7 linked regions of the Homo sapiens genome follow. The protein of the gene in region 2 purifies or fractionates together with the protein of the main gene of each other region. This does not show direct contact. Each region holds a gene or a part of one and is shown on either strand. Other genes may lie near its edges.

What was found.
Region 1: the proteins of SLC25A24 (region 2) and ANAPC4 purify together in Homo sapiens (co-immunoprecipitation; one study listed by IntAct). This does not show direct contact.
Region 3: the proteins of SLC25A24 (region 2) and PPT1 purify together in Homo sapiens (co-immunoprecipitation; one large-scale study listed by IntAct). This does not show direct contact.
Region 4: the proteins of SLC25A24 (region 2) and NIPSNAP1 fractionate together in Homo sapiens (co-fractionation; one large-scale study listed by BioGRID). This does not show direct contact.
Region 5: the proteins of SLC25A24 (region 2) and HSD17B11 purify together in Homo sapiens (affinity purification with mass spectrometry; one large-scale study listed by BioGRID and IntAct). This does not show direct contact.
Region 6: the proteins of SLC25A24 (region 2) and HK1 purify together in Homo sapiens (co-immunoprecipitation; one large-scale study listed by IntAct). This does not show direct contact.
Region 7: the proteins of SLC25A24 (region 2) and OCIAD1 fractionate together in Homo sapiens (co-fractionation; one large-scale study listed by BioGRID). This does not show direct contact.

The regions. Positions count from the first base shown.
Region 1 is NC_000004.12:25,415,263-25,418,998, forward strand, and holds the end of ANAPC4 (anaphase-promoting complex subunit 4), read left to right. Parts: intron 1-137; coding exon of another isoform or gene 138-144; exon of another isoform or gene 145-203; coding exon 204-278; intron 279-1,162; coding exon 1,163-1,336; intron 1,337-2,353; coding exon 2,354-2,477; intron 2,478-2,892; coding exon 2,893-3,120; 3' UTR 3,121-3,236; downstream 3,237-3,736. UniProt on the Homo sapiens protein: Component of the anaphase promoting complex/cyclosome (APC/C), a cell cycle-regulated E3 ubiquitin ligase that controls progression through mitosis and the G1 phase of the cell cycle.
Region 2 is NC_000001.11:108,158,844-108,162,343, reverse strand, and holds part of SLC25A24 (mitochondrial adenyl nucleotide antiporter SLC25A24), read left to right. Parts: intron 1-1,050; coding exon 1,051-1,162; intron 1,163-3,500. UniProt on the Homo sapiens protein: Electroneutral antiporter that mediates the transport of adenyl nucleotides through the inner mitochondrial membrane. Originally identified as an ATP-magnesium/inorganic phosphate antiporter, it also acts as a broad specificity adenyl nucleotide antiporter.
Region 3 is NC_000001.11:40,090,753-40,094,252, forward strand, and holds part of PPT1 (palmitoyl-protein thioesterase 1 isoform 1 precursor), read right to left. Parts: intron 1,756-3,500; coding exon 1,646-1,755; intron 1,421-1,645; coding exon 1,293-1,420; intron 648-1,292; coding exon 577-647; intron 1-576. UniProt on the Homo sapiens protein: Has thioesterase activity against fatty acid thioesters with 14 -18 carbons, including palmitoyl-CoA, S-palmitoyl-N-acetylcysteamine, and palmitoylated proteins. In contrast to PPT2, PPT1 can hydrolyze palmitoylated proteins and palmitoylcysteine.
Region 4 is NC_000022.11:29,571,114-29,574,613, forward strand, and holds part of NIPSNAP1 (protein NipSnap homolog 1), read right to left. Parts: intron 1-3,500.
Region 5 is NC_000004.12:87,381,189-87,384,688, reverse strand, and holds part of HSD17B11 (estradiol 17-beta-dehydrogenase 11 precursor), read left to right. Parts: intron 1-2,326; coding exon 2,327-2,434; intron 2,435-3,500. UniProt on the Homo sapiens protein: Can convert androstan-3-alpha,17-beta-diol (3-alpha-diol) to androsterone in vitro, suggesting that it may participate in androgen metabolism during steroidogenesis.
Region 6 is NC_000010.11:69,395,347-69,398,846, reverse strand, and holds part of HK1 (hexokinase-1), read right to left. Parts: intron 253-3,500; coding exon 19-252; intron 1-18. UniProt on the Homo sapiens protein: Catalyzes the phosphorylation of various hexoses, such as D-glucose, D-glucosamine, D-fructose, D-mannose and 2-deoxy-D-glucose, to hexose 6-phosphate (D-glucose 6-phosphate, D-glucosamine 6-phosphate, D-fructose 6-phosphate, D-mannose 6-phosphate and 2-deoxy-D-glucose 6-phosphate, respectively).
Region 7 is NC_000004.12:48,844,588-48,848,087, forward strand, and holds part of OCIAD1 (OCIA domain-containing protein 1), read left to right. Parts: intron 1-3,500. UniProt on the Homo sapiens protein: Maintains stem cell potency. Increases STAT3 phosphorylation and controls ERK phosphorylation. May act as a scaffold, increasing STAT3 recruitment onto endosomes. Involved in integrin-mediated cancer cell adhesion and colony formation in ovarian cancer.

The sequences.
Region 1 (3,736 bases), on a different chromosome or scaffold from region 2:
GGGTTATTTCTATTCCAAATGTCTTTGGTGACTGTGTGATTTTAAACCAAATTGGTTTATCTATCTAGGCATTTAAACAAGTTCTCAGTGTTCTAAAGAAGTACATGTACTGACCCTGACAATCATGTTCTTTTAAGCCTTTAGATTATTGACTATCCAGGTTGTTCCACAGAGTCTCTTTTTTTCCCCCTTCTTTCTTGAAGATCTGTGAGTAATGGACTAATTGCTATTAAATTTGGGAGCTTTACATATGCCACAACAGAAAAAGTCAGAAGAAGGTAAGTCTTGAATCTTGTTTGGATGAAATGTAGATACATGTGATATGTGTATATGTTTAGGAATAGGATCAGACTCAGTTACGGTGGTAATATAGGTAAAAGGGCTTTGCCACTTCCCACATCAAGGGCAGGATTCTTTGTGTATTTATACATAGAGAATGATTTGACTTGTGATTGAATAGAACCTTACTGCCCTGCAGTTTATGTCGTACGGTTTCCTATAATTAATACTCCTGAGCTCCCTGTTGACAAAGAAAGTAATGTGGTTCCCATGGGCAGATGGCCTGCAGGGCTGAAGTTCTTGTTACGACCAAAAAAAATTATGAGGTGATGCCATTCTTAGTGATGGGAGATTTTCTTAGGATTCAAAATGGTAACAGTACCTAAGCCATCCCTGAGGCTTCGCAAGGGAAAGAAGTGACTAATCATAGGCTGATCTTTTTCTCACTTTTTTCCTCACATAAAATAAGTTTTTTTATGATAAAGTCCTTGGAGTTGCTGTGCCTATTTTTCATGTGTAGTATCTTATTTTTATTTCTCAGTCTAGTCAACTCTGCTGAATGTGTATATAAGGTGTCATTCATAGAATTTCCACAGGCTTAAGGCCTAACCATTGATGGCCAGGGGCTTTCTAGAACTGAAACAACTTCACAGATTTTTGGGGGTCATGATTACCCATTTTTAAGATTTGGTTATATATGTGAATAATCAGTACAAAAAGTAACTGATTTTAATACAAACCAATGATATATTTTAAATGTTATTGTACAGAATGTCACTTAACTTTTAAATTTTTTTCTGCTTGCTGCCAGTATAACATGCATACAATATTTTCTCAGTAGTCACGATCATCTTTGATATAACAAAACTTATTTTAATTCTAGCATCTACAGTTGTTTAGATGCACAGTTTTATGATGATGAAACTGTAACAGTAGTTCTTAAAGACACTGTAGGACGTGAAGGAAGAGATAGACTCTTGGTCCAGCTGCCTTTGTCTTTAGTATATAACAGTGAAGATTCTGCAGAATATCAGTTCACTGGGACTTATTCTACAAGGTAACTAGTAACATTGTCTTTCTGATATTACAGTTAAATGTTTTTTTAATGCACATTATAAATTCCAACCTTTTAGGTACGCTAGATAATGGTTATTTCGTTACTAGAGATAACCACAGAGGTAGCTGAGCAGAAATGCTCCAATTTTTCATTCAAAATATGCTGGCCTTAATAGCTTTTTTTGTCCCTTTGCTTTACTAGTAAATCAGGAAGTATTTGCTGGAATCAAGGTGGGGAATTATTTGGAGTGGATAATGGGACTTCTTTTAGTTACATTTTTAAGGATAGCATTAACCCTAGTTGGTTGGAATTAGTTATTTTTGATTTGCCTTCAGTATTTTCCTTCCAGAATTAAGACCTCAGTACCCATGTAGGAAGTATACTGTCAATTCCAAGAGATGGCTTTAATTGACTGAGACTTAAGTAAGCAGATCTCTAATTTAAAAATGTATCCATTTGCTTTCTTTGAAAGGGAGTCAGAAACCTTGCTAAGATGATATTCTGCCTGTTTGGAATTACAGTATTTCTTTTCTTTTTTTTTTTTGAAACAGGGCCTCTCTTTGTCACCCAGGTTGGAGTGCAGTGACGCAATCATAGCTCACTGCAGCCTCCAACTCATGGGCTCAAGTGACCCTCCTGCCTCAGCCTCTCATAGCTGGGACTACAGGCATGTGCCACCTTGCCTGACTAATTTTATTTTTTTACAGAGATAGAGTCTTACTATGTTGCCCAGGCTGGCCTTGAACTCCTGGACTCAAGCAATCCTCCCACCTTGGCCTCGCAAAGTGCTGAGATTCCAGGCATGAGCCACTGTGCCTAGCCAGAATATAGAATATGGAATTTTTATAGAATATTATATCACAGCTTTTTTTCTAACACAACAGTTGCTAAAATTATATTGGAAATAGAAGTATGAGTAGAAGTCAAAACCATAATTGACCCTAATACCACCTGTAGTAAAACTAGGGAGGATAAGATCCCCTTTTCATTCCTGAGTTGGTTTTTTTCCCTCTTTAGGCTAGATGAACAGTGTAGTGCTATTCCCACCCGTACCATGCATTTTGAGAAGCACTGGAGATTACTGGAAAGTATGAAAGCACAGTATGTTGCTGGGAATGGTTTTCGAAAAGTGTCCTGTGTGGTAAGTGTTTAGAGATCGTTCAGCAACTAAGAAATTACAAGAAGTAACGTTGCTTCTTTGGAACCTTCATCAAATACATGATATATAAGGTCCTTTTGTGCAAATATTTTTACTGTGATTTATAGCTTGTATTGATTATGATCATGTGGTGGCCTTAGCTATTTAGTTCTTGTTCTGATAAAGCTTACTAAGTAGTTAATAATAATACTAGATTTTAATCTCACGAAATTGCCACTGTTGTTATGTGGAGATCTTTTTATACAAAATGAAGGCTGAATTTATTGATTTTGTTGTAAATTGATGGGAATATAACTTTCCTATAAAACCATTCTTTGATTCAGACTTCTGATTTCTAATTCTTTATATATGATAAGCCATTAATTTAAAAATGCTTTTATGGCCTTTTCTTTTTTAGTTAAGCTCAAATCTTCGTCATGTGAGAGTATTTGAAATGGACATAGATGATGAATGGGAGCTCGATGAGTCTTCAGATGAAGAGGAGGAGGCCAGTAATAAGCCTGTAAAAATAAAGGAAGAAGTGTTGTCGGAGTCAGAGGCAGAGAACCAACAAGCTGGTGCTGCCGCTTTAGCTCCAGAGATAGTCATTAAAGTGGAAAAACTTGACCCTGAGCTAGACTCCTAATCTAGCTTGCCATTATTGTGTGTGTAATTATGGCCAAAAGGACATAGGAGATGGACTAAGATGTCTTGGACCACCTTTGTGTAACAAAGAAATAAACAGTAAATTTTATTTTTTCATATTCTGCTTCATCTTCTCTTAGTGATATAGTCACTATGATAGACTTTATTTTTTCTGAGCTTTCTCTTTAATGCTATGTGCAGAACTAGTGTTTAAAGAAAACAGGGCCAGGCATGGTGGCTCATGCTGGTAATCTCAGCACTTTGGGAGTCTGAGGTGGGTGGCTCACCTGAAGTCAGGAGTTCAAGACCAGCCTGGCCAACATGGCAAAACCCCGTCTCTACTAAAAATACAAAAATGAGCTGGGCGTGGTGCATGCCCCTATAATTCCAGCCACTTGGGAGGCTGAGGCATGAGAATCGCTTAAACCTGGGAGCCAGAGGTTTCAGTGGGCTGAGATTGCGCCATTGCACTCCATCCAGCCTGCGTGATGGAGTGAGACTCTGTCTCAAAAAAGAAAGAGAGAAGGTGAACAAATTGAATATGAAGAAAAAGTCTAATCTTTTCTGTCAGAAGGGTAGGTATCAGGAATTGTTCCTGTATCATTGAAATAGTCGCT
Region 2 (3,500 bases):
CTAGAAATATCATTTGACCCAGCCATCCCATTACTGGGTATATACCCAAAGGACTATAAATCATGCTGCTATAAAGACACATGCACATGTATGTTTATTGTGGCACTATTCACAATAGCAAAGACTTGGAACCAAGCCAAATGTCCAACAATGATAGACTGGATTAAGAAAATGTGGCACATTTACACCATGGAATACTATGCAGCCATAAAAGATGAGTTCATGTCTTTTGTAGGGACATGGATGAAATTGGAAATCATCATTCTCAGTAAACTATCACAAGAACAAAAAACCAAACACCGCATATTCTCACTCATAGGTGGGAATTGAACAGTGAGAACACATGGACACAGGAAGGGGAACATCACACTCTGGGGACTGTTGTGGGGTGGGGGGAGGGGGAGGGATGGCATTGGGAGATATACCTAATGCTAGATGACGAGTTAGTGGGTGCAGCGCACCAGCAAGGCACATGTATACATATGTAACTAACCTGCACATTGTGCACATGTACCCTAAAACTTAAAGTATAATAATAAAAAAAAAAGACTCAAAGGCACAGTCACTGACAGTTTGATTTTTTATAATAGCTGTTAATTTTCCTAACTTCGAGGAAGTTGATAGCATGTTTTGAGTATATTTCAAAACTACATTCAAATGTTGCAATAGAACATTAAGAATTATCTTCATGATCCACTAAGTGCATGAAAAAAATGGATAATGAATCTATTCATTACCATCGTTTAATATTTTATCTTCAAGTTTTTGTGTTTTGTAGCTCATTGGCAGAGTTTGACAGAGTGCTGAAAGTATTCTTTAGTGAGCTGGCTGTAATTTTTGGGCCCATTTTTATCTAGATAATTAAAACTATCTGACAGGACCATAAAATGCTTGCTGCCATTTCCAACAACCTATATTTGTGGATGGGGTTTTTTAATTTAATGAGAATATTATGTTAGAAAAGAAACTGTCATTCTGTAAAGTGGCCAATAATGTTAGTTTTATTTATCAATTTAGTTTTGTACTTTGATCATTTTTTTAAAATTTCAGCATTGATGTTGATGGGACAATGACAGTGGACTGGAATGAATGGAGAGACTACTTCTTATTTAATCCTGTTACAGACATTGAGGAAATTATCCGTTTCTGGAAACATTCTACAGTAAGTCTACTTTATGTATTTATACTTATTTGGAGCTATAAACCATAGGTACAGTTATCACCCAAGAACACTCTGTAACACTTATGGGCCAGGATACCTGAGTCCCAGTAGCTCCTTAACCTGTAGAGTTCTATTTATTCTATTAGGCATAGATTTATAGAGTATTAAACAAAAAAAAACAGCTCTCCCTCTCCCTCTCCCTCTCTCTCCCCCTCCCCACGGTCTCCCTCTCCCTCTCTTTCCACGGTCTCCCTCTGATGCCGAGCCAAAGCTGGACTGTACTGCTGCCATCTCGGCTCACTGCAACCTCCCTGCCTGATTCTCCTGCCTCAGCCTGCCGAGTGCCTGCGATTGCAGGCGCGCACCGCCACGCCTGACTGTTTTTCGTATTTTTTTGGTGGAGACGGGGTTTCGCTATGTTGGCCGGGCTGGTCTCCAGCTCCTGACCGCGAGTGATCCACCAGCCTCGGCCTCCCGAGGTGCTGGGATTGCAGACGGAGTCTCGTTCACTCAGTGCTCAATGGTGCCCAGGCTGGGGTGCAGTGGCATGATCTCGGCTCGCTACAACCTCCACCTCCCAGCCGCCTGCCTTGGCCTCCCAAAGTGCCAAGATTGCAGCCTCTGCCCAGCCGCCACCCCGTCTGGGAAGTGAGGAGCGTCTCTGCCTGGCCGCCCATCGTCTGGGATATGAGGAGCCCCTCTGCCTGGCTGCCCAGTCTGGAAAGTGAGGAGTGTCTCTGCCCGGCCGCCATCCTGTCTAGGAAGTGAGCGTCTCTGCCCGGCCGCCCATCGTCTGGGATGTGAGGAGCCCCTCTGCCTGGCTGCCCAGTCTGGAAAGTGAGGAGCGCCTCTTCCCGGCCGCCATCCCATCTAGGAAGTGAGGAGCGTCTCTGCCCGGCCGCCCATCGTCTGAGATGTGGGGAGCGCCTCTGCCCCGCCGCCCCGTCTGGGATGTGAGGAGCGCCTCTGCTCGGCCGCCCCGTCTGAGAAGTGAGGAGACCCTCCGCCCGGCAGCCGCCCCGTCTGGGAAGTGAGGAGCGTCTCCGCCCGGCAGCCACCCTGTCCGGGAGGGAGGTGGAGGGGTCAGCCCCCCGCCCGGCCAGCCACCCCATCCGGGAGGTGAGGGGTGCCTCTGCCCGGCCGCCCCTACAGGGAAGTGAGGAGCCCCTCTGCCCGGCCACCACCCCATCTGGGAGGTGTACCCAACAGCTCATTGAGAACGGGCCATGATGACAATGGCGGTTTTGTGGAATAGAAAAAGGGGAAAGGTGGGGAAAAGATTGAGAAATCGGATGGTTGCTGTGTCTGTGTAGAAAGAGGTAGACATGGGAGACTTTTCATTTTGTTCTGTACTAAGAAAAATTCTTCTGCCTTGGGATCCTGTTGATCTATGACCTTACCCCCAACCCTGTGCTCTCTGAAACATGTGCTGTGTCCACTCAGGGTTAAATGGATTAAGGGCGGTGCAAGATGTGCTTTGCTAAACAGATGCTTGAAGGCAGCAGGCTCGTTAAGAGTCATCACCACTCCCTAATCTCAAGTACCCAGGGACACAAACACTGCGGAAGGCCGCAGGGTCCTCTGCCTAGGAAAACCAGAGACCTTTGTTCACTTGTTTATCTGCTGACCTTCCCTCCACTATTGTCCTGTGACCCTGCCAAATCCCCCTCTGCGAGAAACACCCAAGAATGATCAATTAAAAAAAAAAAAAAAAAAACAACCCAAGACTGCATAAATGTCCATTCTGAAAACTTGGAAGAAGTACCACCTTGATGAATAAGCTGTCTAGCTTTTATTGGCATTTAAGTATTCTGCCATAGGGAAGTGTAAAAGTTGTAGGCTTTTACTTTTTATAGGTACTATATTGTCCAAATAATCTCAGCACCTCATGGTTGCTAAGGATCTGTGTCCTTGTTTGGTCAGATTATGTTTATCTCTGGCATAAGGCACTTAACAATATTCATTAAAGGTTACAGAATCTTTTTGCTTCATCTGCTTAGCATTTCATACCAGTTTGTTTTCCACCAAACTTTCAAATTTTGATTGTTTCATTAATATTCTGCATACTGATGTAAACCAAGTTCTATTATTGTGCAATCTGCTCCTGAAACCCTTAGGAACTCTCTGAAGGAGTTTTATTTATTTTTTGTTTTTGTTTTTGTTTTTGTTTTGTTTTTTTGAGACGGAGTCTTGCTCTGTTGCCCAGGCTAGAGTGCAGTGGTGCGATCTCGGCTCTCTGCAAACTCGGCCTCCGGGGTTCACGCCATTCTCCTGCCTCAGCCACCGGAGTAGCTGGGACTACAGGCACCCACCACTGCGCCTGGCTAATTTTTTTTGT
Region 3 (3,500 bases), about 68 Mb from region 2:
AGGAGTAATAGTTAATTGGGTGAGTCCAGGTTTCCTGATTACACGGAGAATCATTCTGCTCCCACATTATACCAGCTAATAGCTATACCCATCAACAACAGAGATGAAATTCCATTCTAATGACACATCCTTCCCCAATAGTATGGAATTCCGTCAAAATAGAAAACCTGCTGTTTCTCAAAGAGTTTAAATTTATAGACACAAGAGCTTACACACTATTCTTTGCCTAAGCCTAAATTCAAGAGGATACCACCAAATCAGAGAACAGAAAAGGTCACTCAATTTTCCTAACTCCTCAACCACCACCTGCCACGTGGCTATAACCATCTTACTTCCATGCAATCGTGTCAATGAAATTGGAGAGAAGTAGATGCCAACCTAGTGATCCAGGCCTCTGGAATCCTAAGTCTCTTCCTATGTCTCCAGCAATGCTGGCTAGTTTGTTAAAAGCTAGAGAAACAGGATTTTGCAAGAATGGCTGATGTCTTGTGCAAATATAGTTCCTAGATTTTTTTTTAAATCAGGTGGTCATGTGGGTTAGAATACAGAAAAAAGAAAGCAAAGAGGCAAAGTTACCTTGATGTTGTCCCCCAACCGAGATCAGATTGATCATGGGAGGTGAAGGGCATCTCTGAGCCACTGCCCTCCTACGGAATAAAAGGGAGTTTTAGCTCCGACTGTCAGATGGAAATGTATCATCCACAATCAGCATCACAGATTAAGCTAGTCATCCTCTGTGACTCCCCAAACCCGCAGAGTTTCAGGATTTTCCTGATATGGGCAAATGCAAATATTTCTTTCAACTTTCATAGAAAATAAATTAAGCTCCAGCCAGGCATGGTGGCTCACACCTGTAATCTCAGCACTTTGGGAGGCTGAGGTGGGTGGACTACCTGAGGTCAGGAGTTCGAGACCAGCCTAGACAACATGGTAAAACCCCATCTCTACTAAAAATACAAAAAATTAGCTAGGTGTGGTGGTGAGCACCTATAGTCCCAGCTACTCGGGAGGCTGAGGCAGGAGAATCACTTGAACCTGGGACGTGGAGGTTGCAGTGAGCTGAGATCGCGCCACTGCACTCCAGCCTGGGCAACAAGAGAGAAATTCTGTCTCAAAAAAAAAAAAAAAAGAAAAGAAATTAAGTTCCATAAAGCTTCTTACACAGGAACATTTTAGGAAATTTCCCTTCCAAGATAGGTGACAATCTTGAATTGGAGGAGTGGATTTATCTGAATAAAAGAAACAAAAATCAATTCCATATAAGTGGTACAATATAACAAAAAGGAACGTACAGAAATTGGCCTCCCTGGGAGAATCCCATAGCATTGTAGCCTTGCTGCAATTTAGGATCCTTAGCAAGTGCCTGACACACTGTTGTTACTTGGGAATTGACATTCAAGAAGAAGCTGTTCTCCACGTCCTAAAAAAGAAGCCAGAGAGAAGTGAGAGGATGGGACTGAAAACAACCACTGACATCTTCTCTAAGAGGTAAACTCATTTAGGTTGGTATCCTCACATGAGCCACTCAAGGGTGAAAGTATCACTGTATGATCTGCTGCTGAAAACACAAGGCAAAGCATTTTAACAGTATATGCTATGAAATCAGTCAGCAACCCTTCAAAGGAACAGCTGTGAAGCGCCTTACCTCCATCAGGGTCTTCCCAATCTCTAAAGATAAGACGTAAATTCCAGGTATTTTCTTCTCCACCATTTTTTTAATAGCACCCATGCTTAAGGGATTGCAACAGCTGTCTCCTAGCCAACAAAACACAATGATGGAAACTCATGAGTCCAAATATTGTTTATTGTTTAAAAACTCTGAGGCCTCAAACAGCATTATCAAGGATGTGAAAACAATGTATAGAATGGAAGAAAATATTTGCAAAACAGTTATCTGATAAGGGCTTAATATCCAGAATATACAAGGAATCTATAACTCACTTACAACTCAACAAAAAGATAACCTAATTTAAAAATGGGAAAAGAAATTAAACAGATATTTTTCCAAAGAAGATATACAAATGGCTAACCACTGGCATGTGAAATGCAAACCAAAACCACGATGAGATACCATTTCACACAGACTAGGATGTCTTTAATAATAATTTTTTAATAGAAAATAACAAGTATTGTCAACGATGTAGAAAAATGGGACCCCTTGGACATTGCTGGTGGGAATGTAATAAGCAGCCACTGTGAAAAACAGTTTGGTGGTTTCTCAAAAAGTTAAACATACGATTACTAAATGACTCAGCAATTCAACTCCTAGTTATACACCCCAAAGAAATAAAAACACACGTCCATGCAGAAACTTGCATATAGATGTTAACAGCAGCAGTGTTTGTAATAGTCAAAAGGGAGAAACAATCCAGCAGTCCATCAATGAATGAATGAATAAAATGTGGTATATTCACACAATGGAATATTACTGAGTTATAAAAAAGGAACAAAGTGCTGACACATGTTACAACTTGAATGAACCTCAGAAACATTATACTAAGTGAAAGAAGCCAGACTCAAAAAGCCACATAATGCATGATTCCTTTCATAGGATAAATAAAGAACAGGCAAATCCACTGAGATACAGAAAACTAAGCTGGAGATTATCAAGAAGTAGTAGGAGGGGGCAATAGGGAGTGATTGCTTAATGGCTATGTGTGTTTTTCTGGGGTGTTGAAAAAGAAGTGTTAGTTGCACAACATTGCAAATACACTAAATGCCACTGAATCGTACCATTTTAAATGGTTAACTTTACATGAATTTTTACCTCAATTTTAAAAAACAGAAGAAAGAACATTTTTTGCTTAGCTCCTGTTTATCAAGTAATAACAAGCTTCAAAAGTCCATACAGGAGCTGGGTGTCATGGCTCACGTCTGTAATCCCAGCAGTTTGGGAGGCCGAGGTGGGTGGATCACAAGGTCAGGAGCTCGAGACCAGCCTGGGCAACATGGTGAAACCCCATCTCTACTAAATATACAAAAATTAGCCGGGTGTGGTGGCACATGTCTGTAGTCCCGCTACTTGGGGGGCTGAGGCAGGAGAATCGCTTGAAACTGAAAGGTGGAGGTTTCAGTGAGCCAAGATCATGCCACTGCACTCCAGCCTGGGCAACAGAACAAGGCTCCATCTCAAAAAAAAAAAAAAAAAAAAATCCATATAGGCCAAGCATGGGCTCATACCTATCATCCCAGCGCTTTGGTAAGACGAGGCAGGAGGATTGCTTGAGGCCAAGAGTTCGAGACCAGTTTGGGCAACATAACGAGACCCTGTCTCAAAAAAACCAAAAAGCCCATATAGGATAATTAAGACACCAAATTTACAAATGAAAAATAAGCAGAGGTACACATTCCCTTCCCCTATCACAGGGGATATTTGGGGTGAACAGATGCAAAGTTTTCTCTTCAGGGCCAGGACTAGGGTGAGGCAAATTAAGCATCTAGGACAGCGGTCTTCAACCTTTTTGGCACCAGGGACCAGGTTTGTGGAAGACAATTTTTCA
Region 4 (3,500 bases), on a different chromosome or scaffold from region 2:
GACCCCACACATGGAAAGCCAAATACAAATAAGCTTTGTCCTTGAGGAGCTCATAGTCCACTAGGAGAAATGGGCCTTGGGACACAATTATAGGAGGGGTCTCTGGAAGAGCCCAGGTGAACTAGCCTTAACTCTGCTTCTGGCAACCTGGGCAGACTCTCTACAGAGGAGGAGATGAGCTGGTCAGTCCCCAGGACTGGTTTGGCAGATAGAGGGAGTAAAAGGCACTGCAAAGCAAGATGCATTCACTCATCCAGCCAACACCTGCTCTGCCCATCTCCATAGGATACTGAGAATGAATGAATGAATGATCAATGAATATGATTATGTGCTTTGCCCATGAGCACTGTGGTTAAGGGCAGTGGAGGGTCTGCTGCCAGCTCCTACTGGACCAGAACTGCACTCCCATCCTAAACACATACCCAAGGTCCCAGCAGGAGGCAGGGGTGCTTATTTTGAGACTACCAATCTTCCCGCTCCACAGCCTTGGTGCAGCTTGCAGCCAGGCCTGAAAAGGAAGTCTCCCAATGGAGACAATTCCTAGCCAGGGAGCCTGGCAAGAGGGATCCCTGAGTGGCAGCAAGCCTTATCCCTTTTTTCTTTTTTCTCTTTTGTTTTTTCCAAGTGAGGTCACAGGAAGCCCTATCCTTTCTTTTCTTTTTTTCTTTTCTTTTTTTTTGAGACAGAGTCTTGCTCTTGTTGCTCAGGCTGGAGTGCAGTGGTGCGATCTCGGCTCACTGCAACCTCGGCCTCCCGGGTTCAAGCAATTTTCCTGCCTCAGCCTCCTGAGTAGCTGAGATTACAGGCGCGTACCACCACATCCAGGTAATTTTCGTATTTTTACAATACAAATACTCGGCTGCCCTATCCCTTTTTAAGACTTTTATGTGGTTAGACAAATGTCTTAGGCTGGGTGTGATGGCTCACGCCTGCAATCCCAGCACTTTGGGAGGCCAAGGCAGGCAGATCACCTGAGGTCAGGAGTTCGAGACCAGCCTGCCCAGCATGGCGAAACCCTGTCTCTACTAAAAATACAAAAATCAGCCAGGCGTGGTGGTGTGCACCTGTAATCCCAGCTACTCAGGAGCATGAGGCAGGAGAATTGCTTGAACCTGAGAGGCAGAGGTTGCAGTGAGCCAAGATCGCACCATCACACTCCCGCCTGGGCAACAGAGCGAGAATCCATCTCAAAAAAAAAAAAAAAAAAAAGGACAAATGTCTTGCAAATAAAAAATCAATCAATTTTTTCCAAAATATGGAGCAGCCATTGGGACGGATAAAATCAGCTGGGCACGATGGCTAAATGCCTGTAATCCCAGTACTTTGGGAGGCTGAGGTCAGAGGATCACTTGAGCCCAGGAGTTCAAGATCAGCCTGGGCAACAAAATGAGACTCCATCTCTACAAAAAAAATAATAAATATGACTGGCTTATGCCTGTAATCCCAGCACTTTGGGAGGCTGAGGCAGGAGGATTGCTTGAGGCCATGAGACAAGCCTGGGGAAACTTGTGAGACCGTGTCTCTACAAAAAATAAAATTAGCTGGGCATGACGGTATGTGCCTGTAGTCCCACTACTTGGGAGGCTGAGGTGGTAGGATCACTTGAGCCTGGGAGGTTGAGGCTGCAGTGAGCCAAGATCTTGCCACTGTACTCCAGCTTGGGCAACAGAGTGAGACTCTATCTCAAAAAAATAAAATAAAATAAAATAAAATACAATAATTAGCCGGGTGTGGTGACACATGCCTGTAGTCTCAGCCACTTGAGAGACTTAGGAGGATCGCATGAAGCCCAGGAAATCAAGGCTACAATGAACTATGATCAGGCCACTGCACTCCAGCCTGGGTGACAGAGACCATGTCTCAAAAAAAAAAAAAATTTCTTTTTAAAAATAATCTTAAAGTGGTGATATGTTTGTTTTGTTTTGTTCATTTGTTTGTATTTGAGATGGAGTCTTGCTCTGTCGCCAGGCTGGAGTAAAGTGGTATGATCTCCACTCACTGCAACCTCCACCTCCCGGGTTCAAGTGATTCTCCTGCCTCAGCCTCCCAAGTAGCTGGGACTACAGACGTGTGCCACCACGCCCAGCTAATTTTTGTATTTTTAGTAGAGACGGGGTTTTACTATGTTGGCCAGGATGGTCTCGATCTCTCGACCTCATGATCCACCTGCCTCGGCCTCTCAAAGTGCTAGGATTACAAGCATGAGCCACTGCGCTGGGCCAAAGTGGTGATATGTTTGTATAAGCATAAAAATGAGAAATGGGCCGGGCATGGTGGCTCACGCCTATAATTCCAGCACTCTGGGAGGCCGAGGCAGGCGGATCACTTGAGCTCAGGAGTCTGAAGCCCTGTCTCTGCAATAAATAAAAAAATTGCTGGGTACGGTGGCTCACGCCTGTAATCCCAACACTTTAGGAGGCCAAGGCGGGTGGATTACCTGAGGTCGGGAGTTTGAGACCAGCCTGACCAACATGGAGAAACCCCATCTCTACTAAAAATACAAAATTAGCCAGGCGTGGTGGTGCATGCCTGTAATCCCAGCTACTCAGGAGGCTGGGGCAGGAGAATTGCTTGAACCCAGGAGGTGGAGGTTGTAGTAAGCCGAGATCAGGCCATTGCACTCCAGCCTGGGCAACAAGAGTGAAACTCTGTCTCAAAAAAAAAAAAAATTAGCCAGGTGTGGTCGAGTGTCAAGTGCGCCTGTAGTCCCAGCTACTCAGGAGGCTGAGGTGGGAAGATCGCTTGAACCCAGGAGGCGTAGGTTGCAGCAAGCTGAGATCGGGCCACTGCACTCCAGCCTGGGCAACAGAGCAGACCCTGTCTCAAAAAACAAAACAAAACAAAACAAAACAAAAAAAGAGGCTGGGCATGGTGGCTCATGCCTGTAATCCTAGCATTTTGGGAGGCTGAGGCGGGCAGATTGCTGGAGCTCAGGAGTTCACGACTAGCCTGGGCAACATGGCAAAACCCCATTTCCACTTAAAAAAAGATACAAAATATTAGCCAGGAGTGGTGATGTGTGCCTGTAGTCCCAGCTACTCGAGAGACTGAGGCAGAACTGCTTGAATCCAGGAGGCGGAGGCTGCAGTGAGCCAAGATCACGCCACTGCACGCCAGCCTGGATGACAGAGTGAGACTCCATCTTCACAAAAAAAAAAAAAAAAAAAAAAAAAAAAAAAGAAAGAAAAAGAAAAGAAAATAAATTACTTGTCCCAAACTGTTAATACTGCTTACCTGGGAAAGAGGAATAGGAGATGGCTAAATTTTTCTTTATTCATTGTAATTTTTTATAAAGATTTTAAAGTGTGTTAAGCATTTCTGAATTCATGAACTCTCTCGATCATTGTACATGCATCTGCTTCATTAGCAAAAAGACAATTATCAGCCTGGTGCGGTGGCTCATGCCTGTAATCCCAGCACTTTGGGAGGCCGAGGCGGGCGGATTGCCTGAGGTCAGGAGTTTGAGGCTAGCCTGGCCAACATGGTGAAACTCAGTCTCT
Region 5 (3,500 bases), on a different chromosome or scaffold from region 2:
TCCCCACCCTAATAAGCCTGATAGTACTGCAGGAGACCAGGGCGTATCTCAGTCCTTACCTCAACCACATAGGACGGACATTCCCAGAGCAGCCATTTATAGACCTCCCCGTAGGAATGCATTCCTTTCCCAAGGTATTAATGTTAATATTCCTTGCTAGGAAAAGAATTTAGCAATATCTCTCCTACTTGCACATCCGTTTATAGGCTGTCTGCAAGAAGAAAAATATGGCTCTTTTTTGCCCGACCCCACAGGCAGTCAGACCTTATGGTTGTCTTCCCTTGTTCCCTAAAAATCACTGTTATTCTGTTCTTTTTCAAGGTGCACTGATTTCATATTGTTCAAACACACATGTTTTACAATCAATTTGTACAGTTAACACAATTATCACAGTGGTCCTGAGGTGACGTACATCCTCAGCTTATGAAGATAACAGGATTAAGAGATTACAGGCATAAGAAATTATAAAAGTATTATTTGGGCACTGATAAATGTCCATATTAAAATGAAATCTTCACAATTTATGTTCTTTGCCGCGGCTCCAGCCGGTCCCTCCATTCGGGGTCCCTGACTTCCCACAGGAGAAAAAGAACTTGTTTCCCTTTATTATCATAACAGTTTCACTATGCAAGCTACTAATTCTCCCCACAGCTGTCCAGATTTGGCCTTTCCAACATTAGTTGCCATTTACAAATGTGTACACTGATTCACCATCCTCTCTGTGGATAAATGTATGAGTCCTCCTAGGGTCTGCCCATTAGTGCATTAGTTGACAATTATTAGGTTGATGCAAAAGTAATTGCAGTTTTTGTCATTAAACTAATGGCAAAAACAGCAATTACTTTTCCAACAACCTAATACTTGGCCTGCAGAATGCACAATACTAGATCTTCATCCAAAATATCTTTTGAGACATTCTCTTAAAAGTTAAAAAAAAAAAAAGGCAAAAATTGGCCAAAAGCAAACAAGCAAAGATAACAACAACAACAAAAAACCCCAATGGTATGATCCTAAACTTAAGTTGACTCAAAATTGGCGCCCCAAATTGGACTCATAACCCCTTTTCCTCAAATCTGCTGTCATCTCTGTCTGACATGTGGCAGCGTGATCTTGCCAGCTACCAAAACTAGAAAGCAAAGATGTCAGATGTGGCTCCTTCCCATCCTTCCTCATCTACTCACCAAGTCTTACTGATTTTACCTTCTAAACATATATTTTAAAGGATATTCTTTCCTCTACATTTTTTCTACTAATGCCACATTTCAAGTTTGTGTCATCTATTACCTGAATCACTGTAACTGCCTCTCAGTTTTTTTCTTCCTCCAGTGTTGACCCCTAAAATCCACCCTCCATACATCAGCCAAAATAATCAATACGACACATAAACCTGACACTATAATTTAATCAGTGGCTCCTCATTCATTTTTTGATAAATCTTAATATGACATGTGGGACCTTAATCTGAACTTCTTCTGGCCTTGACCTTTATGATCCATCCAACAACACTAATCCTACTAGTGGTTTCCACAAGACCAATCTCCTATCTGTCATTGCCCACACCCTGCCTGATGTGTCCTTTCACCCTGGGGAAAGCAAGTGAAAGGGCATGGCAAACCACTGCTGGAATTGTATTGTGTGCCCCTCTGTGTTCCCGTAACTCCCTGTATAGAACTCTGCTGTGATACTCATCACAATGTATTAGGTTGAAACTGCCAATATTCAATCTTTTATTATCAAAACAATAACAGTATTACGTGGTCCTACTTAACTATGATACTTATGTTTCTTTCTACTACACAGAGAACTTCTTGGGGTCGGGACTCTACCTCATTCATATTTGTGTCAAGGTTTTTCTAAGCTCAGTGAATATGACCTTCACATTAAAATGCTGAAAGAACAAATGGTTTAATGAACTGTGGTTAACTCATTATTTCTTTTGCAGACAGTAAACTGACATCCATGAATAGTTTTTAATGACATGGAAAAAAGTTTAATGTTACATTTTTTAAAGCCTGATATGGAATACACAGAGATACCAACATTCACAAAGTATTCAAAGTTCATAAATATAAAAACTAGTATTTTAAGATTTTTATCTTCTTTTAAGAAGCTTGCTTTAAATTCAGCTCCAAATAAAAGAAGCTAGTCAAAATACTAAAAGCAAAATGTGCCTATATACCTGCCAAAAATGTGTTGTTAACAATCTTGCCCAATTCAAATGGAAAGAATCTCACTACTTTTTAAAAATTATTTTTAATTATTTTCAGCTGTCGATATAATATGTTCATATCAATTATTACCTTGCCCTCTTTTTTGCTTTTTCTAGCATGGACTGGAGGAAACAGCTGCCAAATGCAAGGGACTGGGTGCCAAGGTTCATACCTTTGTGGTAGACTGCAGCAACCGAGAAGATATTTACAGCTCTGCAAAGAAGGTGAAATGTTGTGTTTAGTTAGAATCATATCATGTTAGAGCTAGGAGGTGTTTTGGAGATGACCCAGTCTGTACATGATATAGATGAAGTACCTGAGAAATGTTGTTATTTGACCAAGGTTATAGAACTAGCTCATAGCAAACCCAAAACTAGAACCGAGAACTGAACCTCTCAAATATTAGTATGTTCTGGAATTTTCCAGGGAGTTGTTAAAAATGTATATATATACTCTTGGGCTCCACTTCCAGAGATTTTCTTTCAGTAGGTTGAAGGCAGGGCCTCAAATACATCCACCCTGCCTCCCATGCGCCTTCATCTCACCCATGATGCTCATATAGGTAACTATGCCTGGATGACACTTGCAGAATTGCTGACAGGGTCTTCTGAAGCCCATTCATAGAATTGGGTTAGAAAGTTACAATAAAGCTATTCTTTATCAGGTTTTTATTGTAGATAGATCTATTTCTTTTCTTTTCTCTTTTTTTTTTTTTTTTGAGATGGGGGGTCTCACTCTGTTACCCAGGTTGGAGTGCAGTGGCATGATCTCGATTCATTGCAACCTCCACCTCCCAGAATCAAGCAATCCTCCCACCTCAGCCTCCCAAGTAGCTGGGACCACAGGTGTGTGCCACCACGCCAGCTAATTTTTTGTATTTTTGGTAGAAAACGGGGTCTCACCATGTTGCCCAGGCTGATCTCGAACTCCTGAGCTCAGGGGATCCACCCACCTCAGCCTCCCAAAGTCCTGGGATTATAGGCATGAGCCACGCTCCCAGCAGATCTATTTCTATAAAGCATTATTTGCCTCTTCTAGATACAATTGAGATGTGCTGTATATAATGGGGTTTCACTCTGAACGCATTCTCGCTTGTACCTGTTAACTAAATACCTTAATGGCAGCAAGGTCATCAGAATTACCTGGGCAGATTCCTTAAAATACACATTCCTGGACCTTACCCCTGGATATTCTAATTCAGTGCAGTATAAAAAGTGTGATTCAGCAAGACTTGAGAACCTCTTTGTTTATGGAATTTTTGGTTTGAGTTCTTTTTTTTTTTTTTTTTTT
Region 6 (3,500 bases), on a different chromosome or scaffold from region 2:
ACTGGAAGGCCCACTCACTGTGGATGAAGCTTGTAGAGTGTCCCGTCCACTCCCACAGTCACATTCAGACGGTCCAGTCCTCTGTTCTCGCGGATCTTATCCACAACCGCAGCCATGCCTGCGCCACACAGCTGTGCGGCCCTCCTGGACACCACCCCGCACACTGTCTTGACGAGGATACTGTCATCGCAGGTGCTATTCAGACCTAGCTGCTGGAGGATAGCCCGGACCTGGAGCAGTGCTAATCGGTCACTGTGGGGGACAAGAGCCAGAGGGCTGGATGAAGCAGGACCCACAAGAGCAGCCTGGAGACCACGTCCAAAGGACGCCCCCCGCCCCCAATCACTGTACTCATCCACAGACAGAGTCAAGGGCAAGTGTTACATGTTAAACTGTGGAGAATTTGGCAAATCTAGCAAAATAAAAATTGGAAAATCTAAACCATTCACTATCTCAACATCTAGGAAAATGCTATTAACATTTTAATATATTTCCTTCCAGTTTATTTTTCCTAGCTGGTATGCTTCTCATGATATGCAAAATGGGATTATCCTTGATATGTGATTTTCTTTCTCTTTCCTGTTTCATGCATTGAGCAATTTCCCACAGCCTTATCTGAGAACAGGATTGGAAACAGCTGCTGCAGTATTCCCTCTAGGGATGCACCATGATTTCTTTAGCCAGCTTGGAGAAATTCAAGTTAATTGCAATTTTCTGCTATTATAAAGAAACATTTTGATAAGGTTTGTTTATAAATCTTTGTGTGCAATTCTGATGTTTTTCCTTAGGATAAATTTCTGGGTCAACGAGCTTTTGCTACACATTGCCAGATGCCTTACAGAAAATTGTATCCATTTACTCTTCAGCAGAGTATTTGGCCACACTTATCCTCACTGGAAAAGAGCATTTTTTTACAACTTTTGACAGTTTTATAAGAAGGCATCACAAGACTGTAGTTCAATTTATATTATTCTCTATTAGTGAGGATGATCTCTTTTTTTTCCATTTGTTTTTTGGCCATATAAACTACTTCTTACGTCTCAAGACTTTTCTCCTGATATATTTGTCTTATTTATATTAAATTGAAAGAGACGATAACTGGGATGGTACAATGAAGACCAGCCAGGCTTCTTGGAGGACTTACCATGTAACATATATTTTACATACATTACCTTACTTACTCCTCAAACAACCAATGAATGTATGATTATTCCCATTTTAAAGATAAGGCAACTGAGGCTGGGAGAAATTGAGTATTGCAAAGCACACAGCCGGTGGAGAAGAGCAGGTGTAGACCAGACCTGCCAAAGCCCACCATGCCCTGCTAGGCGTCTTGTCATACACAGTACAAATGTCTTCCTCAGTTTACCGTTGCCTTTTAAGTTTGATTACTTTTTTTTTTTACTTACAGACACTATGTAGCTATATTTGGCCATTTTTCTTTATGATTTCTTTCTTTGCTATTATGCTTGAAAAGACTTTCCATACCACTTCATACCCATTAGGATGGCTATTCTCAACTCAGAAAATAACAAGTGTTGGCGAGGATGTGGAGAAACTAGAACTTTCACGGGCTGCTGGTGGGAATGTAAAATGTTACAGCCACTGTGGAAAACAACATGGTGGTTCCACAAACAACTGAACAGGGAATTACCATATGATCCCGCAAGTCCACTTGGGGTGCGTACACACACACACACAAACTGAAAGGAGATACTGGTCACCCGTGTTCACAGCAGCATTTGTCACAATATCCAAAAGGTGGAAGCAAGCCAAGTGTCCATGGATGGATGAATGAATAAACAAAATGCAGTGTGTGCATGCAATGGAATATCACTCAGCCTTAAAAATAAGGAAATTATGGCCGGGCGTGGTGGCTCATGCCTGTAATCCCAGCACTCTGGGAGGCCAAGGTGGGCAGATTACCTGAGGTCGGGAGTTTGAGACCACCCTGATCAACATGGGGAAACCCCATCTCTACTAAAAATACAAAATTAGCCGGGCGTGCATGGTGACGCACGCCTGTAATCCCAGCTACTCAGGAGGCTGAGGCAGGAGAATCGCTTGAACCCAGGAGGCAGAGGTTATGGCGAGCCAAGTTTGCACCATTGCACCCCAGCCTGGCCAACAAGAGTGAAACTCCGTCTCAAAAAATAAAAATAAAAAAATAAGGAAATTCTAACACATGCCACAATACGGATGAACCTTAAGACATTATGCTAAGTGAATTAAGCCAGTCACAAAGGACAAATGCTGTATGATTCTATTTATATGAAGTATCCAGAGTTGTCAAATCCATAGAGACAGAGAGTAGAATGGTGGTTGCTGGGGTGGGGGGAGGGAGGAATGTGGAGTTAGTGTTTGCTGCGTACAGAGTTTCAGCTGAGAAGATGAAAAGAGTTCCGGAAATGGATGGTGGTGATAGCTGTGCGACTATGTGAATGTACTTAATGTCACCGAACTGTATACTTAAAAACCATTTTGCCTGGGTAAGAGCAGTGTATAGGCTTGTTAGGTTTTTTTTTGTTTAAGGTTTAATATTTTTTTTCTTTTCTTTCTCTTTTTTTTTTTTTTTTGAGACAGAGTCTGTCTCTGTCGCCCAGGATGGAGTGCAGTGGTGCAACCTCAGCTCATTGCAACCTCCGCCACCGGGCTCAAGCCATCCTCCCACCTCAGCCTCCCAAATAGCTGGGACCACAGGAATGTGCCACCACGCCCGGCTAGTTTTTGCACTTTTTGTAGAAATGGGGTCTTGCCATGTTAACCAGGCTGGTCTCGAACACCTGAACTCAAGTGATTCACCTGCTTTGGCCTCCTAAAGTGTTGAGATTACAGGCATGAGCCACCGTGCCCAGCCTACACAGAGCCTACGTTAGGTTATTATGACCATTCTAAGAAGAACACAGTATTTGCACAATTGCTTTTGTTTTTTCTGACCCTTTTTTCCTCCTTCTCACACAGCGTGCCTTAGAAGACAGCAAAGGCCAGGAAGAAATGTACCCTGGACAGGAGAAAAGTAGAAAGAAGGTGGAACAACTTGCTGAGGGGCATCAGCTCCTGGGTGGCCTGGCACTGAACCCCAGGCTGCCTTTCAGATAAATCCAGGTGGGCCCTATGCACCCCCAATACAAGTATGTGTAGTGCATCTTTACCATCTGAAATGGAATCCATATGGCCCTCTTACACACATAATTTCAAATAAATCAATATAATGCCCCAACATAAAGGATGGATAAAAGGAAAGTAAGTAATTTACTTATTTATTGAGATGCAGTCTCGCTCTGTTGCCAGGCCAGGCTGGAGTGCAGTGGCGCGATCTCAGCTCACTGCAACCTCCACCTCCTGGGTTCAAGTGAGTCTCCTGCCTCAGCCTCCCAAGTAGCTGGGATTACAGGCATATGCCACCACACCCAGCTAATTTTTTGTATTTTTAGTAGAGATCGGGTTTCACCATGTTAGCCAGGATGGTCTCAAATCTCCTGACCTCATGATCCGCCTGC
Region 7 (3,500 bases), on a different chromosome or scaffold from region 2:
CCTGGGCAACAGAGCGAGACTCTGTCTCAAAAAAAAGGTAAAAATTGAGAGAGACTTTAAGAAAAGAATTTGGAATCCACCAAGACATTTTGCATTTAATCAAAATCCCTGACATTTTGTACAGTGGTCCTTTTGTGTCTGTGTGGATTGGTTCCAGGACCCTCCAGAGGATACCAAAATCCACAAAAGCTTAAGTCTCTGATATAAAACGGCCTAGTAAAGTTTACGTGCATATCTGCCTGTATACTGTAAATCATCTCTAGATTACTTATAATACCTAAGACTATGTAAACACTATGTAAATAGTTGTTATACTGTATTGTTTAGGGAATAATGACAAGAAACAAGTCTGTACATGTTTAGTATAGATGCAGTTTTTTTTTTCCTAAATATTTTCTATCCGCAGTTGGTTGCAGAACATGTACATATGGAGGGCTGCCTGTATCCCCTTTCATCCACAGTGTGTCATACTCCACGTGGTCTTAGATGTTCCTTCTGTTTCTTCCTGATCTGCCAAAACCATTTAAACATGCTCAGGTCTCCTCTAACTTGAGAACATTAAAAAGAAAAAAAAATCCTCCCTCATTTGTTTTTCCAGCTACTCCCAACTGCCTCATATTTGAAGCCAGAGGCAGACTTCATGAATGAGCCCTTCACTTTTTACTTCGTTTAACCCATTGCAGTCAGTGTGAGACTATCCATATGTTCTACCATTTATTGGAACTTTTCAAAAGTTCAAAAACAAACTTTTCAAAAACAACCTGTTTGTTGCTTAAATATAATGGACAGTTTTTGTTCTTGACCAACGTTACATAACTTTAACCAGTTTTTCTTGAAATAGTCTATTCTCTTGGCTTCCATGATGGCATATTCCTAAGATTTTTCTCCTACCTCAGGCGATTCCTCTGTTTCATGTTTTTTGAGTGTCTGATATGTACTATACATTGTTATATAGCACTAAACAACAAAAATTCATTAACTCTTGGTGCTTACATTCTTGTATGGGTTTTTTTGTCTAGTTGTTTGGGAAATGTTGGTGTTACTATATTTTGGATATAATATATAATATGTATGGCCCTTCTATAGGCTCCTCAAACAGAACTCAACCATTTTCCACAAAACCAATTCCTCCTTTCCCTTCATGACTGAGTGGTGTTAGTACTATCCAGGAAACTGGGACATTATCCTTCACATCTATCCCTTATCTGCCTTGTCCAATTAATGTCTTTTAGCTCTTAAATGTCTTTATTAACTATCTACCTCCATCTGTACTGCCAGCATAATTAATGCAACCATATGTCACAAAGAGTATTGCGTTAACCTTCAACAAATCTGTTTGTTTCCATTCTTGCTACTTCTCCTTAGGAAAATAAGCTATTTCTAGCACCTGACAGAGGACATACATAGTGCACATAGTACTCAAATATTTGAGGGGATGAATAGCAACCATGACACTATTATCTTTGTCTTAACTCTCTCTCTAGACTGTAAATTCCATGAGAGTAAAGAGTGTGTCCTGTTTCCTGTTAATATCCAGTATGTAGTACCTTTATGTTGTAAGTGGTCTATAACTAGTTGGTGACAGTATGAAGGAACAACTTTTTAATGTAAAAATAGAGATGTTCTTACCATCTTCCTTTTTCTATTGTCATCCCAGTTCTTATAAATGAAGGAACTGAGGCTAAAGGCACAGATTAGTTGTCTGTTTTTGTACTTTAATTACATGAAATCATACACTGAAATATTCTTTTATGTAAGTTCTTTCAACATGGTGAGATTCATCCAGTAGCATGCTGGAACTGGTTTGTACTGGCTCCTGAGAATTGGTTGTTAAATTTTCGGGAACTTTGGCAAGCTGGTTTTTAAAGTGTTGGTAGTTGGCCGGGTACGGTGGCTCATGCCGGTAATCCCAGCACTTTGGGAGGCTGAGGCAGGCGGATCATGAGGTCAGGTGATTGAGACCATCCTGGCCAATATGGTGAAACCCTGTCTCTACTAAAAATACAAAAAATTAACTGGGCATGGTGGTGTGCACCTGTAGTCCCAGCTACTTGGGAGGCTGAGGCAGGAGAATTGCTTGAACCCAGGAGGCGAAGGTTGCAGTGAGCTGAGATGGCGCCACTGCACTCCAGCCTGGGGACAGAGCGAGACTCGTCTCAAAAAAAAAAAAAAAAGAATTGGTAGCTTTACACCATGGAAACTGACAAACATTAAAATTAGAGCTTTTTATAGGGAGTGCTGGTTTACCAGCACATCATTGCACTTAACCACATTGTTGCATGTAGTTGCCCTATAGTTTTCCTCTGTGTGAATACACCAGTTTATCTATCTGAACTGTGCATTGATAATTGGTAGTTTTCAATTTTCACTGTTACAATTAGTTTTGCCAAGAATATGGTGCCTTTTTGATAGACATTTTGCTGGGTCATAGATTTTGTATATATTTATTTAGCTTTAGTAGATATTACCAAACTATTTAGACCAATGTATACTCCTACATTCTCACCAACACTAGCTATTTTTATGTCTTTTATGTTTTAGCCATTGTGGTAAATAAACACTAATATTGATTGCATTGTGGCTTGAATTTGTATTTCCCTGTAACCAATGAAGTTGAAGACCTTTCCATTTGTTTATACTTCATTTCAGCATATCTTTTTCTGTGAAGTATCTGTTTAAGTCTGTTAACCATTTTTCCATTGTATTGTCTTTTTTCCTATTGGTTTTGTGAGACTTCTCTGTATACTTTGGAATTGAGTCTTTTGTCAGATATAGATATGGTGATTATTTTTTCCCCACTCTGTTTAACTGTAGTTTTCAGTGTTAATAGAGTCCAATTTATCAGGTTTCTTCTTTCTAATAGGTGCTTTTTGTTGACTCTTTAAGATCTTCGTCTACTCTAAGGACACAAAGATGGTCTCATGCTTTCTTCTGTAAAATTTTTTAAAAAAATCTTTCATATTTAAATTTTTAAGCCATCTGGATTATTGTTCGATGTAGGATCAAGGTACATTTTCCCCTGTTAATGGATATTAATTGACCCAGCACTATATTTGAAAGGACTATGCTGCAGTGTTGTCTTTGTCATAAATCAAGTGTGCAGGTGTGGATCTGTTTCTGGACTCTTAGTTTTGGTCAGTTTGCCTATTCTTGTACTTAATACCAGACTGTCTTAATTACTACAGCTTTATCATGTAGATTTTGCTATCTGGTGGTAGTCAGTTCTATAATACGATTCTTCAGTGTTGCCTTGGCCCTTTGTGTTCCACATGACTCTTAGAATAAGCTTTTCAATTTTTGTAAAACTTTGATTTTAATTGGGATTGCATTGTATTTATAGGTGAAGTTATGGAGAATTGCCATCTTTAGAATATTGGGTCTTTCAATTCTCAGTAAGTTTTATAACTTGTCAGTGTAGAGATCTTTCATATCTTTCATTAGATTTGTTCCTGGGTTTTGAGCGTTTTTTTTTTTGGTGCTATAATTAATTCTGTCTTCTA